Regions from separate parts of the Homo sapiens genome. Here region 2 is linked to region 1. Evidence: fine-mapped expression QTL. Tissue or cell type: unexposed skin. Region 1 holds a variant in brackets; the other region holds the start of a gene. All regions are shown on one strand. Distances are from middle to middle.

Region 1 (8,103 bases):
AGTCAAAATGTGCCACTTACTAGCCACGTGCCCCTGGGCAAACACCGTTCCTCTCTGGGCTTCAGTTTCCTTACATGTAAATGGTGTCACATCCACAGAGCCATGAGGATTAAATGAGATGACTCAGTAAAGCGCTTGGCATAGTAGGTGGTAAGTCTGTGGTTCCACGATTAGTGGTATGAATACAATCTCACATTTACTGAATAACAGTTCTAATGATTTATGGTTATTATTTTTGCCCTAGGTGATTCTCTGGCAGGGAAGTCACCAGGAACCCTCCAGAAGGAAGAAATGTCTAGCATGTCCTAGGTCCCCGCACCCTTGCAAAGACCCAGAGATGAAGCAATGCTGGATAGACCCCACCTGCACACAGAGAAGAAAGGCTGCTGGAGAGACATCATCAGAGGAGAGAGACAGTGGCTCTAATCCAAGAATCCAGGCAACGTGTGTAGGGCTCAGGGTGGCATGTGTGTGTTTTCATGCCCAGCACCAGGACCTGAGCACTGAGAGCTTTCCCTACCTGCCATGGGATCCTGGTATCAAGGTGTTGCCCGAAGGTTTCAGCACCATGTGGTCAATTGTCCATGCATCTTTATGCCAATCTATCATCCCCGCTGCTGGGTCCCAGAGCCATTCAAGTTGGTCTGAGGCATTCAGGGCTTGCCATCTCCCAGTGGGCACAAGGCAGCTCCCCTGCAAGAACACTTCCCAGCTTTGATGACCTAACCCTCCTTGCTGGGGTGCAGATAAAGGACACGGCAGGTGCACTACCTCTGTAACCCTCACTCAAATATGCCAGTCTGTGGGCTCATATGCCTTGACCTCCAAAGCACAGACATGCCAGCTGGGCATAAGCTGGGACCCCTTTGGAGGGGAGCCAGAAGCATTCAGAGCCATCAGCAAAGCAGAGTCTGCCTCTCTGCAGGGAGCTGTCTGTGGAGCTCCCTGTGTGCCCTGATGGTAGGATTCAATCGCTCCACAGAAACCTGGAATTCTCCCTGTTGTCCTGAACTGTGAGAAGCCAAGTCCTGTGTTTTAGATACAATACCATCTGAATTCTGCTCTCACTGCTGGCCCATGTTCTGTGGCTTCAGCCGAGTAATTCCACTCTCCAGGGCTCTTTGTCATCCATCTGTGAGAGCCAGTCCGGGCAGAGAAGGAGAGGAGCAGGGCAAGCTGAGAATGCAGCCCATGATGCCGCCCCGATTATGGTGTTTCCTCACTGGACACGTGGATGAAGCGTGCTCGGGTTTTGACATCTCATAAAGAATGAGCTGACAGAATTGGGTTTGATTCAGTCATTTTGAAAATAAGCGAAGTTGCTTTTTGATATCCTTTTTGTCGAAAATGACAAATAGCTTGCCTTTGTGTATACCTGCCTCGTTTCTCAGTCCGGATATATCTGTTTCTTAGGAAGTGGGGGGACCAGCAGGAGGGGAGGAACATGGCTGTCTCATGGCCCCAGCAGCCAGAGAAAGCCCCCAGGTAGGTGCTGGCTGTGACATCAGGTCCCCGTGCACTAAAATAGTGGGGAGCAAGGAGCATGGGTAGGGCACATGCCCAGTCTGCCCCTGGTGAAATGACAGAGAAGAGCCCTTCCTAGTTAGGCATTCAAATCACGACTGGATCCCCCAATACACAAAGGCGTGGTTGATGTTTCCATGCCAGATCCTAGCACGGAAAGCTGTTCACCCAATAAGCGTCCACCCACGCCCCCACTTCTGGCCTGTTCCACTGATGAAGGTGCCCGTATATGTATCTGTCTGCCCATAGTGGGGTTTCTTTGCCTGCTTTTATTTTACCAGTGGCTACATTTCATCATCCAGCTTCATTTCCCATAGAAGTTCTGAATGTTGTCTGGTTTTCCTCGAAACTATGAATCACACTGTGCACGCCCTACCTCTCTCTAGCATTGTAAGAAAAGCACTCCTCTGTGCAGGACACAATCCTGTCTACTGCCCCTGAGAGCCCTGGTTCATCTCGTCCCTCCATTCCAGTTCCTTCTAGAAGGTAAAAGTTGGAAAGTGACCTGAGCCCAGTGCGGGACAATATGGCAGTGCTCTTCAAGGCCTCCGCTGGAACATCTTGTGTCTCCCAAGCTGGATGCTGTGCCTGGTCATTGGAGAAAGTAAAGGCAAAGCCTCAGGACAGCTTCCAGACACCAGTCTCTTCATCGGGACGAGGTCAGCTGCTGGCTCCCAGGTTGGGTCCAGCTCTTCATCATTTACTATTAGACCCACACAGTGTTTTAAATATTTCAGTGAATTGTGCATATTTAAGAAATGTGAGATTTTACAGAAAGATTTGCATTTCTGGCTTTTCTAAAAAAAAAAAAAAATCAAAGTGTCTTGCAATGCTGGCAACCAGCCCAACGTGGCAATCAGTGCCTGCATTAGCTTCCTCCTTAGTGCCGCCAGGCTGGCTCCTGCAGCCCTGGGAGCCTCAACATCACTAAATACCTATAACACAATAGCCTATGCATCTTCTATCGAAAGTCATGACAGTTCTTCAAATGAAAGTTAGCTGGGAACTATCCAGGATTCTCCCTATACCAAGCTTGTCCAACCTACAGCTCAAGGGCCCATGAGGCCCAGGATGGCTTTGAATGCAGTCCAACACAAATTCATAAACTTTCTCAAAACACTATGAGATTTTTTTGGTGATTTTTTTTTAGCTCATCACTATCGTTAGTGTTAGTGTATTTTATGTGTGGCCCAAGATAATTCTTCTTCCAGTGTGACCCAGGGAAGCCAAAATATTGGACATCTCTCCTCTTTATAAAGCAGGGAGGGTCCTTCTAATTGTAACATCTTATGAATTCTTGAAGACTCTACAACTGTTACTCTCCCTTATTCTTCTTAAGACCAGCTCCACTGTGCACCTGATGCTAGTAAGCGTTGGGACGTGCTGGGAGACTCCCCTATTCAGGGGACAACCCTGACAGATCTGAGCAATGATGACATTTCTGTCCCCAGCTGACACCTGGCTCAGGAGGGACCTGGCTCAGGAGGGACACAGACTGGCCCATGTGGCATAAGGGAAAGTTCCATATGCTTCTGGGAAAGTCCCCCTTGCTCTTAAACAGAGACTGGAGAAATGGCCAGCCTGTCCTCTGAGTGATCTTCTGAGGGCTGGTGTGCAAAGCTGCTGTGGTCAGGACAAGCTGGCTCAGAAAGGTGGCAAAAAGAGGGCAGGAGCTCGGGTCCCCAAAAGCCTCCTGGAACTGTGGGATTCACCAAACCTGAAATGATCCCACCTGAGACTTCTTATATGAAATTATTCTCATTCTTAATTGTTTGAGCAGTTATACTTTGGTTGTTACTTGCAGCCAAAAGCATTTTCTCCAGACTTCTGAGTCCTAAAAATTTCATTCTTTGACACAAGAGCTGACCCAGAGGCCCTGAAGCCCCTCTCAGGCCTGCAGAGCTTTGGTCTGTTTGCTGAATCAGATTCATATCTACACAACAGTTCTAGGGCCAAATTCTGCTCTCCCACACTCCCACCCACTCATATTGGAAGACAGAAGAGTCTTCTAGCTGAACTGTTTCTGGTGAAAGAGTAGCCTTCCTTCGCGGGCACTGACACTGAGGGAAGCAGCTCAGTGGCTACTTCCACCTGCAGATATTCCAGGTGGTGGCTCAGAACAGCTGACAACCATACCTGGGGAAGACTGGCCTTTATTTTTCTGGTTGTTCATACTCCAACAGCTAGCACCGTACGTTGGGGTCCAATGAAGCGAGCAGCAGTAGATGGCATGGCCAGGGCAAGGCAGACACGCTGGAGCAGTCGGGAAACCTGGCATCTACACCCATGCACTGGCACCCTCACCTTCCTGTTTCCCGTGGGAACAAAGTGGGCGGCAAATGCAGGGTGAGATACTGGGTCACTTCAG[G/T]CTCCAACTTGCAGAAGCTGTTTCAGACCCACAATGGGAGCAGGCTGCATCTTTTGCCTACTCAGGATAAAACGTGACACTGCTGCGTCATACAGAGATAGTTCTGCATGGTTTCCTAAGAAAGGCAAAGCCAGAATGCCCGGGGACTACCAGCATTTTACCTGAGTAATTACCATGTGAGCATGTTATCTTCAGGAACAATTTTGCTGTGCTTTAATAATTTATCTCTGAGCTAAAAAATTATAATTGAAAATGATAAGCACTTTCACGAGTTGGGTTGCCACACTGCAAAACCAATTTATTGCACAGAAGATTATAAAACACATTTCCATTCAACTCAGTCTCAAGTGATGGGCAGGTTGGAGGGGCTACAGAACCACAGTAGTATTAGGAAACTGCACAACTCGTATACCAAATAAAAGCATCAAGGATATGGGGGCAGCTGGAAAGCAGCCCTGCTCTGGTTGAGGGTTACTGTCGACATCTCCCTGTAATACAGCAACCTGATTCCTAAAGAAACAGATACAGTAGGCACTTCACTCAAACTAATGCTCTCCTCAGCCCAGGGCAGGGGAGCTCAGCCACAGGCCAGGTCCAGCCTCAGCTTTGCCAGATCCTTGCACGGGTCATGGAGGAGGCTCCTGGACCCGTGCAAGGATCTGGCAAAGCTGAGGTCCAGGCCAGCACAGCCCAGTTCTCTCCTCCTGCTGCAGCCAGGCTCTCAGCACGTGCATTCACCCCCACTGCTTTCCATCTGCCCACTTCTTCATTCATGGCTGTCCTTTCTGCCTCTCTGGTGTCCTGGGGCTGCTTTCACGTCGGCCTCCTCTGACCTCTGCAGGCCAACCACATGGGCCCCATCAGTCCTCTGCTCCCTGACCCTCAGGCATCCCTCCTGGAAGTGTCCAGTGTGTGGGCACCAGGTGGTCCACATTCCCTGGGCCTCTTCCCTGCTCTGGCCTCCACAGGGTTCCCTCCTGGGCCCTGTCTCTCTCCTGCCCAACTCACCGCTGCTCGGTTGCATCCACTCCCCACATGTCTCCTACTGCCCCATCTCGCGGCCTCACAGATGTGCCTGTCCACATCAGGCCTGTCCTTTCATCTCCCAATCAGAGCACCCAGCTGTCCACTATTTCCCAGAACATCTCAGAGTCACCAAGACCCAAACTACTCCCACTTCCTCCCCCAGTCCACCATCCGTCCAGTGATCCACGACGTGCAGGCGGCATCCTTCCTCCCACCTTCCCAGCCTCTAGGGATGATCTGGCTCCATGCCCTGGGCCAGTCCTCTTTTTCCCCGCCCATGCCCCACCTCCACCGCCTCTCACATGGGTGGGCACAGCACTGGTGTCCTGACCAGCCCCTGGCTCCAGCCTCATCCCCTATGCTCCATGCTGTAAGGTGAGATCATGTTGAAATAGAAGCCTGATCATTTGTTTTCCCATAAGCACACACACCACAGTGAAATGCTGCTGGGGCTTGCCATTGATCATAGGATAAAAATCAGATTTTTTTTTTTTTTTGAGGCAGTCTCACTCTGTTGCTCAGGCTGGAGTGGCACGATCTCGGCTCACTGCAACCTCCGCCTCTTGGGTTCAAGCGATTCTCCTGCCTCAGCCTCCCAAGTAGCTGAGATTACAAGCATGTACTACCATGCCCAGCTAATTTTTTCTATTTTTAGTAGAGATGGCATTTCACCATATTGGTCAGGCTGGTCTCAAACTCCTGACCTCAAGTGATCCGCCCACCTCAGCCTCCCAAAATGCTGGGATTACAGGCATGAGCCGCTGCGCCAGGCCAAAAATCAGATTTCTAACACGGCCCTGTTAGCCCTGGGACTTTGGTCCTTCTTGTTTTCTTTTTTCTTTTTTTAATTTTTTTTGAGACAGAGTCCCGCTCTGTCACCAGGTTGGAGTGCAGTGACGCGATGTCAGCTCACTGCAACCTTCGCCTCCTGGGTTCAAGTTATTCTCCTGCCTCAGCCTCCCGAGTAGCAGGGACTACAGGCACACGCCACCACGCCCAGCTAATTTTTGTATTTTTAGTAGAGACAGGGTTTCACCATGTTGGCCAGGATGGTCTTGATATCTGGACCTTGTGATCTGCCCACCTCAGCCTCCCAAAGTGCTGGGATTACAGGCGTAAGCCACCGTGCCCAGCGGATCCTTCCTATTTTCATGTCCACATTCCCCAGCCACAGTTCTGTGGGCCACCCAGTCCTTCCACAAGGCCAATACACACACACGCACACACGTGTGTGAACATGCATGCAGACTGAGTGACTGATGAACTCTTTTAACTGCATTAGGCCTTGGGGAGCTTTGCCCATCTCCCCACTGTAGATTCAGCCTCCTGGTTACATGCTCTCACTGCAAACCTCTCAACCTTGCTCCTCTTCCTCCCAGAACTGAGCATAGTGGTAACTTTGTATATGTGAAATTGATCTCCCAACAGTAAACTGTGAGACAGTCAGAGCTGGAAACTCATCCCTCTTGTCTATTGCTGGCTCCCTAGTGCCTGCTATAGGGAGCAAGTGATCAGTAACTACTTGATCCCAGCCATACATGGGAATCACCTGGGGTGGGGGACAAACCATAGTACCAAGCCCCATTCTGGACCAACTATATCAGACTTGCTGTGGGTGAGGCGCACGCGCACACACACACACACACACACACACACAGGTGATTCTTACACCAGCTCTGAGAAGCACTGAGGTTGGGAAGTGAGAGGTGGAGAGCTTGCTAGCATGAATATTGATGTCACAGCGTGAATCTTCACTGTTCCTTGTTCCTTTCCCCAAGGCCAAATAGAAGAGTCCCAGATGTTCTAACTAGCTTTATTTCCCCAAGTGTCAGCATTTGGCCAGCATGCCTGAAGATCTAGAAACTGCAGCTTCTCTGCCACATACAGCCAATGCTTCACCACCCGCCTTGTGCAGGGAGAGCAAGCCTCAGCTTTGCCTGTACACTGTGCTGTGCACACCAGATCCCCAGCATAGGACAGTAACAGCACAGGCACTGCAGGGGACTTCAGGGAGGCCTGAATGGCCCTGGACCCCCAGCCCAGACTTCTGTGCAGAAGAGTTAAGAGTTATTGAGTGACTGCAACCTAAAGGATATTTCTTCTTTAGGTCATTTAACTACACTACCAGCTTCTTGAAGCCAGGGGCTGCGTCTCGTGGACCTTATTGTCTGCTCAGCAATAACACAGGGCCTGGTGCTTTCTGACGAATCCACACACATGCACTGAGTGGAGCTGCGCTCACGGATGAGCACAGCTGCATCTTTCACGGAGGCTGCTTTCCTGTCAGCTTGCATTTCCCTGGATCTCTGTGTACTGTGGAGTACAGGGCCTTGGGCTGAGCCCAAAGCATTCTGAGCAAAGCATGCATGTATGGGCATGTATGGGAACTAGGAGTTCTAAACGCTTTCCCTTACCCTGTCCCCTTAATCCTCTTACCAACCTGCAAGACAGGTCCTTCCACAGTTTCATGTGAGATGAGTAACGGCAGTTTTCTCAGCTGTTAGGCAAGCTGATGCCTTGCCAAGCTCAAACCTGGAAGACTGATGTTGAAGAAGCAAGGAGGGTTGAAAGAGCCATGAGTGAACAAGGAGCCAGGAGTGATGGGGAGCCAGTAGTGATGGGGGAGCCAGAAGTGATGGGGGAGGAGCCAGGAGTGATGGGGGAGGAGCCAGGAGTGTTGGGGGAACCAGGAGTGATGAGGGAGGAGCCAGGAGTGATGGGGAGCCAGTAGTGATGGGGGAGCTAGGAGTGATGAGGGAGGAGCCAGGAGTGATGGAGGAGCTAGGACCCTAACTTATACCTGGAGTAGAAAGAGTAGGGACATGAGGAGGAGCATCCACTGAAGGAGTTTATGTTCCTTTTTGACCTGATGTGCCTCCAGAAATGGAGCCTGACAGAAACGGGAATCTGCAGCCAAAGTCCTTTGCCCTCTCTTGGTCAGGCTTTGCTGTATTAATTCCATGTTCATGCAAACATCTGTGCATGAGTGTCTATGACAACTGTATTCACAATAGCCAAAACCTAGAAGCAACCCAATTATCCTTCCACAGGTAAATGGTTGAAAGTGGCTCATCCATACTCTGAAATACTACTCAGTAATACAAAGTAATAGATTGATCCACACATCTACCTGGATGCGTCTCCAGAGAATTATGCTGAGTGGGGCAGCCATAACCAGAGGTTCA
Region 2 (8,103 bases), 48 kb before region 1:
GTCACTGTCTCCTCTGGTCTCCCAGCCCCATTTATCTGCACCTGTCCTGCCCCCATTTGTGTAGCTCTTCCTTCACAAAGACTTAGTCTGCTACTTAGGGGGAGCATGGCTCAGCTTGTTATCTCCATAGGGCACTGTGCATGGAGCTTCCCCAGCACACACACACACACACTAAAGCCATTACTTCTTCTGCGATGGATGTCAAAATCTCCAACCCGGTCTTCACAATAATCAGTCAAACTAAAACTCATGAGTTCAGCATTATCCAGACATATAAAGCATCTGAATATTTGCCTGGACTCTACTTGCTTTTAATTTCTTCTTTAAAAAATCTTTCCGAGCCCTGCATATTGCATTCAGCCAGCCCTACCACCTTAGAAAAGTGAGCCCAAGAAACGTGTGCATTGAAAAGATGATGTTGTTAATCTCCAAAAGAGATGAGAATGATTTCATACTGGATGAGACGTTTAGAAATGAATATTTGAATGAGAGCCACAAACTGAGACCCTTCATGACTACAGTGAATTTGGATATCTCGCAGAGGAGATAATGCCAAACCATACACCGGACACACAGCTGGGATTCGCCAGATGCCCCAGGAAGGGTTTATTTAATTCATTCCAACAAATGATCCTATAATGCATTTATGCATTTAAAAGCACAGAGACACAAGTCCTCATATATGAAGTTGTTATGGTTACAGAAAGAAAATAAATATTTGTGCACACAGAGATAGCATGAAATCATTCTACAGTGAAAATAATAGCCTCTGGAAAAAGCTTTGAAAATCAGAGATGGTGCCACCACCAGACAACACAAGTGCTGGGGTACAGGGCAGCCCTCCATGCATCTCATAGCATTTGCATGGTTTGTGAGCCCCATTTAATGACATAAAATGAGGGCACTGAGGGAGGAAAAGTGAACAGACACACAACCCGAGAGCACATTGTTATTTGTTTATTTTGTACAAGTGATGTCATAAGCAAGGATTTTGCCTGTGTTCTAGATTATCTCCAATAAATAAATAACTATGTACAAATATTTTGAGTTTACAAAATAGAAGAGGAAAACCTTTGTCTTACAAAAGTTACATTTCTATGATACATTTATTTCCATACACTGAAGCAGGATTTCATTCCTAGCTTAGCTGAACCAAAGACCTTGCAGACCCTGTGTGGCAGTGTCTAGAGCTGTGTACCTAGCCTTTTCTACCAAAGAGCAAAGCTACACAAAGAAAATTCCTCAGTTTCTTGAAAATAAGGGCCTGACTTGGCCTGCTACTTATAACTGATCTATATTTCATGTATTCCAGAAAATTGGAAGCAGTCTGGAATGGTTGTCCTCAAATTACTGAGCAGACACACCCCCTGCAGATCTTGTTAAATATAGATTCTCATGAACTGGATGGGGTGGAGCCTAGGATTCTGCATTTCTAACCAGCTCCCATGGGCAGGGCAGCTTCCAATTCTTGTTCAGGGGCCACATTCCAAAAGGCCTCTCTGAAATGGTAGAAATTCTCTGAGGACCTGATTAAGGCTAGGCCCTAATTGGGCATCCTCCAGGATCCATTCCCAAGCTCCCAATTCCACAAGACCAGTAGAGCTGGTTTTATTTTGGTCTACCAGTGACAAGGAACAGTGACAGTCAATTGCTAATTGGCATGAATCATGCAGTTTGAAGCTTTCTTGAACTGTCTCCTGGGAGGTGTTTGTCTCTTCTCTCAATCTAGAGCAACCTTCTGAACATTTTCAACACTGTCAAAAATAAGTAATAATAACAAAAAAGGAAATTGCATAAGAAGATTAGCAACAATTACCATTTTTCAGTACAAATCAAAACAGCAACAAAATTCAGGCTCACTGTTTAAAAGTAAAGATAAATACCTCTTTGGGTGTAATTTCTATGACAGTCCAGCAACATCAATTTAATACCTTTTACATCTCAACCTTTGTTTAAAATTATTTTGCTCTGGGAATCTGAAATTTCAGGATAAATTAGCAAATCTGGTGAAAAAGCAAATGGCCATTTTTATTTTTAGTGTTTTTGTTTCTGTTTCATGTAGGGGTTCTGTCTGAGCAGACAGCTAAGAGCAAAAGAAGTAGGGTCAGGCACAGGTAGGGTGACTCAGGTGAGTTGGCCCAGTTCCTGGGAGGAGAAAACTAGGAAGAATGGGGAATAAGTGGGGCTTGCTTCATAAATGTGAGAGGGCTAGGAAAAAAAAATTCACCAAGATAGTTTACCTGTCACATGACAAGTGGGAGTTTGTAGAGAGAGAGAGACCGGAGAGCTGTGCAAAGTGGATACTGGAGACATACAGGTAAGAACAAAGGAAACAAACAAAAACCTAAATACTTAAAAAAAATAAATATTTTAGTCATCCCTAGCCCACGAGGTCAAGGTCTGCCCAGAAGGCTGCCGACCAATAACGCTCACCCTCCTGCGCCCGGTAGTGAGGACCTGGGACAAATCGCAGTCTGTGTCTTCGTTACAAAATTGCCATCATTGCCCAGTGGTCCAGTGACGTCACGGAAGAGGCCGAGGCTCATTCTCCTCCCTCTAATCACCCCCTCGCCAGTTAGCCATGGAATAGAAGAAAACAGCTTGGGGGGTGCGGGGAGGGTCTTCTCCAGCTGTAATGCCAGCTAAGGTGCTTTGGTAGCAAAGCTGGGGGTGAGGAGGCACAGGCTCCTGGACGGAGCCAGGCTCCTGGACGGAGGCCGCTCAGAGTCTCTGCGGCGTCCGCTCGGTCCGCACGTGCTGCAGCACTACCTCCTTGGAAGGGGCCGCGCACTTGTACTCCATCTTGGCCCTGGCGGCGCCCTGCTTCTTGCGCAGGTGGCAGAGGAGCGCCAAAAGCGCCACCACCAGGCACAGGCTCGCGATGGAGATGCCTATGAGCAAGCCCGAATGCACGAGCCCCACGGCCGGAGGAGTCAAGGTGGAGCCGGGCGTCGGGCTGGGCGGGGGCTCGCCAGAGCCGCTGTCGCCACCGTCCACCTTGCCGGAGTCACAGTCGGTGCCAATGTGGCGGGCAAGGGCCGAGTCGGGCCCGCAGATGCACTCGAAGGTACCGGGGAGGTTGTGGCACACCCCGGAGCAGAAGCCGCCGTTTTCGCACTCGTCGATGTCCGTGCAGATGAAACCGTCGTCCAGGATGTAGCCTTCAGGGCACTCACAGCTAGCCTGGGTGTTGGGGTCGCAGTCGGCTGGACAGGCAGTCTGGTTGCAAAACATCTGGCACCTGTGCGGCTCGTGGGGAATGGGCGCGAAGCCCTCGGCGCAGACGCAGAGGTAGCTAGTTTGGTTCAGGGGCTGGCACTGGTACTCGCAGTTGGCTCTGAAGCACGGGTCCACGGGCTCCACACACTCGCCGTCCACCAGGTCGTAGTTAGGGTAGCAGTGGCACTCGAAGCCACCCTGTGTGTTGACACAGCGCTGCGGACACGGACTGGGCTCCAGTATGCAGTCATCCACGTCCTCGCACCGGTGTTGGTCGGCCGCCAGCCGGTAGCCGGTCTCGCACATGCACGAGTAGGAGCCCGGCTGGTCGGGGTTGGGAACGCAGAAGTGCTCGCAGAGGTCGTTGCAGGACTGCGTCGCGGATGCGGTGCAGGAGCGCCCGTCTGCCTGCAGGGCGGCGCCGGCTGGGCACTGGCAGCGGGGAGCCCCAGGGATCGCATTGCACGCGTGCTCGCAGCCGCCGTTCTCCACGCTGCAGTCCCAAGCGCCCGGCGCCTCCCTGGCCCAGTGCCCCTGGACCGCTCCGGGCGGCGCGGTGCACATTAGCTGTAAGCCGAGGGGAGCCACCGCGGCGGAGCTGCCCACCGGCAGCGCCTGGAAGTCCGCTCCGCGGGCCGCGAACGGGGTGCCGTAGGTGATCGAGACGGCGGCAGCCGCGGCGCCGGGCTCCACAGCCAGTGGCCTGCAGGTGGCTGGGAAGTGGAACTCGCAGAGGAAGCCATCGGCCTTCACTTCGCACTGCTGCTCCTCCCAGATCGGCTCGCTGGGCACAGTGGCCTCAGCAGCGGAGACAGCGACGCACAACGGGCCGCAGAGGGGAGCCCCATTGAGGTCGAGCCGTGCCCACCTGCTATAGCTGGTGTTGTTGTCTCCCGTAACCCACTGGAAGCCGCGCAGGGGCCCGAGGCGCTTGGGGTCGCCGCAGCCGGGTGGCAGCTGCAGGCCGATCCAGAGGCGCCGGCGGCCAACGCCGCCGTCGCCGTTCAGTAGCAAGGAAATGACATCGGCAGCCACCGAGGAGCGCACTGTCATTAGGTGGCCCCGCAGTCCGTCGCAGATCTGACTGGCATTGAGGAAGGTCGCGGGGCCCGGGTAGAGCGCGAAGCAGTCGTGCTCGACGCACTGGCTGCCACCCGGCTGCGGCTCTGCGGGTGCGGGGAACCCCAGGCCGGCCAGGGCCAGCGCGCCAAGGACCAGGACCCCAAGCATGTTACCCAGGCGCGCCGCGTGCAGGCGCCGGGGAAAGCGCGGGCACTGCGACAGGGCCGTGCCGGAGCAGAGGGGCACAGGACGCCGATGGCGACAGCCTCTCCTGTCCGTCCCAGCCCAGACACTTCTTGCCGCTGCGCGCAGCCCCTGCGAGGCAGCCTCTGACATGCGGATCGGCCAGGGCTCGAGTTTATAAGTGCCCGGCCCTCCCTCCCTGGACGTTCGGGAAAAGGAAGGAAGTGCCTGGTGGGAAGGGCTGATGCCGCATACTCGGATTGCTGGGTTCTCTGGCCGCCCTTGCGCCCGCCCTCGCGCATGGGATCACCTCGCCGGGATGAGTAAACCCTGCCCTGGCGCAGGGAGGTTCTCGGGCGGGGCCGACAGGGGCAGGCGCCAGGGAAGGCCAGCACCCCTGTAACAAGACGACTGTCCCCGCCCACCACTCGGGCCCCCACGCGTGCAGCCCTCTTTCATCTCTTGGTCCTCCTTTCTTTCTTTTCATACATGTTACAGCCACTTCCAAGGAAAGCCTGGATTGCAAGAGCTCTGGGAACCGGAGACTTCAGAGAAGAGGGCTTTGAATGGGGAGTGGGGGAGGTGGTGCACAGGACCTGCAAGACGCTGGGAGGGGTGATCGGCACCAAGGGCACTTTGGGAGGACCTGCCTAGGACGTGGACTTCCCCGAAGACAGGATCGCAAGGAGAGACAGCTGGATCCTGTCCGCGGCCAAGGTGCCTGGCTCAGGAAACCAGCGGAGCGCGCTTGGCCTCACAGGACAGTGGGTGTGGCTGGGGTGACGGGGCAGGGTGGGGAAGACTGGCCTAACACCAGCGCCCTCTGCCCCATGGCTGGCCAGGGACCCGCGAGTCCCTGGACACGCACTGGCCAACGCCAGACCCCATCTCATCGGGTGGGGAAGTCGCGGGGACACTGTCAGGGCGCCGAAGTCCGGACCCGGCTCAGAGGCGGTGGCAGGTGAATTGCTGCGGCGCCGGGTAGGGGCGGGCGCGTGGGAGCGAGTCAGCCTGGCCAGTTTCGGCCCAGCTTCCGAAGGATGGTGCTTCTTGCACCCCAACAGAGTGGCTGGCAACCCCCCAGGGGAGCGCGCAGGATCCCAGCTGATCCCACCCGGGTCGGCTAAGGAGGTTTCCATTTCGTCCAGAGTCCGAATTGATACCCACGTGCATAGAAACGCCACTTGCTCGGCAAAGGGCACTGAAGAGCCACCGTCCTGTGGATGGGCAGGGTGGGGGGGGGGCTGGAGGAGGACATGGGAATCCGTCACTTTCGACCTCTTCCGGTGGTTCACTTACCGGGAATGCGGAAGAGTGGGTCTCCCCCTCGGGTCGCCCCCATAATGGTGAGAGGCAAACTGTTTAAAAACACCCTTGCCTCTCTCCTCTACTGTCCTCACAACGAGCGCCAGGGGGCGGCGCTGTCGAGCTCTAAACAAAGCCAAGGAAGTTGGAGAAGTTTCGGGCTAAAAAGGGTTAAGGTGTAGGAGCACAGAGTCCTCCTTCTGGGGTTGGAAGCTCCGTTCCCGGGCAGCTCAGCGTGGATTCCGCTGCGTTCACCTCTTGCCTCCAGGGCCCAGTAGATCCTGGGCTTTAAACAAGAACAGAGAGTATGGCGTCTGCCACGTGCGACAGACACGCACCGGTGGGGTGGGCCGGGCTGGACTGGACTGACCTGCAGTGACCAAACGGGTGGGGCGTGGACACTCTGAAAGTGAAAAAGGCAAGCACGACTGTCCCGCCGCACACTCCCCAGCGCCTTGGGGCAGAGAGCCTCCAAACGTCCCGCTGAGTTGAGCTCTTCGCTGGGAAGGCCGCCCCAGCACCCAGGAAACGAAGGAGCTGCTGGACACGGGGGTCTGAAGCTCCCGGAATGCACACAGCTGCGCCTCCCCTGACGCGGACCCCCTGGGAAGAGGAAGGGAAGAGCGGCAGATAGCACAGTAGGGCTTGTCCGGCGGGAGCAGTCAAGCTGTGGCTGCCTAGGCTGAATCAGGGGGTCGTGACTCCGGTGCACAGCCTGCCTACGCGGGACGCAAAAGCAGGGCTGCCTGCGGTGCCGCCATGGGGGTGAGGGTGGAGCTTCAGATAAGGGCAGGAACCTCGTTGGGGCACTGCTGAAAGGTCTCAGAATGTGGGGACAATTCCCAGAGTGAATGAGACAAGAGAGGGGGACAGGATCGGTTACAGAATCAGAAACCAGTGCAAAGTGAAAATGTGGGGTCCATTGTTCAATTACAAGGATTCAAGACTGTGATAGCAAAGTGTTAAACAAGGAATGAGGCCCTGGGGGGGTGATGAGAGGGCCCTTCTGAACCTGCCAGCCCTAAAAGCCACTGAGGGACATTCAAGGATCAGATCTCACCCCACACCAGGCTGGCTGAGTTCTTGGATGGATTCTAGCTGATTCACCAACACAATGTTTCACTGGACGTCCTACACAGGTCCACTTGCACCCATTGCTGATTCTTGCAAAGAAAAAAAAAGTGTGAGAACAGCCCCAATAGCTGAGTCCACTAAGAACTCAGTGATGTCTGTGAAACTTGGATCAACCCTATATGAGGAGGTGCAGATGTTGGATGTTTCTGTATTAGAAAGAAACTAGAGCAACAACAGATAGAAGCAGAGCATTGTCCCATGGGGGGTACCACAGTGTCTGGGTTGCCCTACACAAGGATGGGTGGACATGACCCACTTGGCTTTCCCACCTGTAAGGGCTTTACCCCTGACCCTCAGGATACCTTTGCCTTGTGGGGCCTGCCCTCAGCCGCTTTGTTTTTCCTCTCCAGCCAATACCTTGGAGGCTTTGCATATTTTAGACTACCTTCTGGTGACTGAAGGTCCCCTGTCTGTGTTCTTGCCCCATCCCTATCTTCCTATCTGTGCCCCCTGCACACCAGGGTGGGCCACTCCTTCCTATCCCTTTGCAGATAACACATCCACTTCCCAATGCTTGGCCCAGTTCCTGGCCCAGCACCCTCACTCTGGCCCACCAGCAGACTTGCTTTACTCCTGAAACAGCTCCCTTGAAGAACACCCATCTGGTCCTAAATACTGTTGCCAAAATCTTGTTTTCAGCCATCCTTCTAGAAGCCTTGGTGCCATTTGCACTTGTGACCCTTCACCATTCTCAAGGCTCCTCCTCCAATTACTTTTGAGACACATGTTTTCCTCCCTTCCTCTCCTGTGAGCCTTGGGGAGGCCCCTGGGATCCTCTTGTACCACCCACTAGAGTGGCCATTCTCAAGGTTTTGCTGGTGGTCTTCATCATCTCTTTACAACCCACCTTTTGGTGAACTTACCCATTCCCCTGGCAGTGATAGCAGTGTCCAAGGAGATTGGGGAGGGAGTATTCTAGAAGGGACCCTTACCCCATCTTTCCCAGTATCAATAGTTGGTCCACTGAGGTTTTAAACCATGCACTTGCCTTTGACTTTCTGCTCTCCTTCATCCACTGCCTAGTTTTTGTGTCTTGTTTCCCCTGATCACTGCTCCTGCCTTCTCAATTTATGCTGAGACAGTTGGGTCCCCAGCTCTTTTCCTTGCTGCTTATCTCTCCAGCTCTCCACCGTGGCTGAGGCTACTCTGATCCTCATACTCCCTCAGTGCTGCTCCCACCCGCTGGGAGAGCCCATACTC

Direction of the effects. Positions count from the first base shown, and alleles are read on the strand shown. Sizes are in standard deviations (SD) of each study's normalised expression.
With allele G in place of T in region 1, the expression in unexposed skin of the gene that starts at base 4,617 in region 2 is higher (large effect, 0.88 SD a copy in GTEx).

What was found. PIP is the estimated chance that this variant, and not a neighbour inherited with it, causes the effect.
Region 2: THBD starts here. The variant in region 1 is fine-mapped to the expression of THBD in unexposed skin (GTEx, PIP above 0.99). The same link has a PIP of 0.9 or more in esophagus mucosa and sun-exposed skin.

Annotation. Positions count from the first base shown.
Region 1 is chr20:23,093,294-23,101,396 of GRCh38, forward strand. No RefSeq gene overlaps it. Among named protein-coding and RNA genes, the nearest start is that of CD93, 11 kb to the left of the region's middle. RefSeq lists an enhancer at 2,846-2,995. The variant G/T (reference allele first, on the strand shown) is at 3,893.
Region 2 is chr20:23,045,056-23,053,158 of GRCh38, forward strand. THBD (thrombomodulin) reads right to left here and starts at 4,617. Exons shown (of 1, transcript NM_000361.3): 1 at 578-4,617. The coding sequence starts at 4,449. The coding sequence ends at 2,722.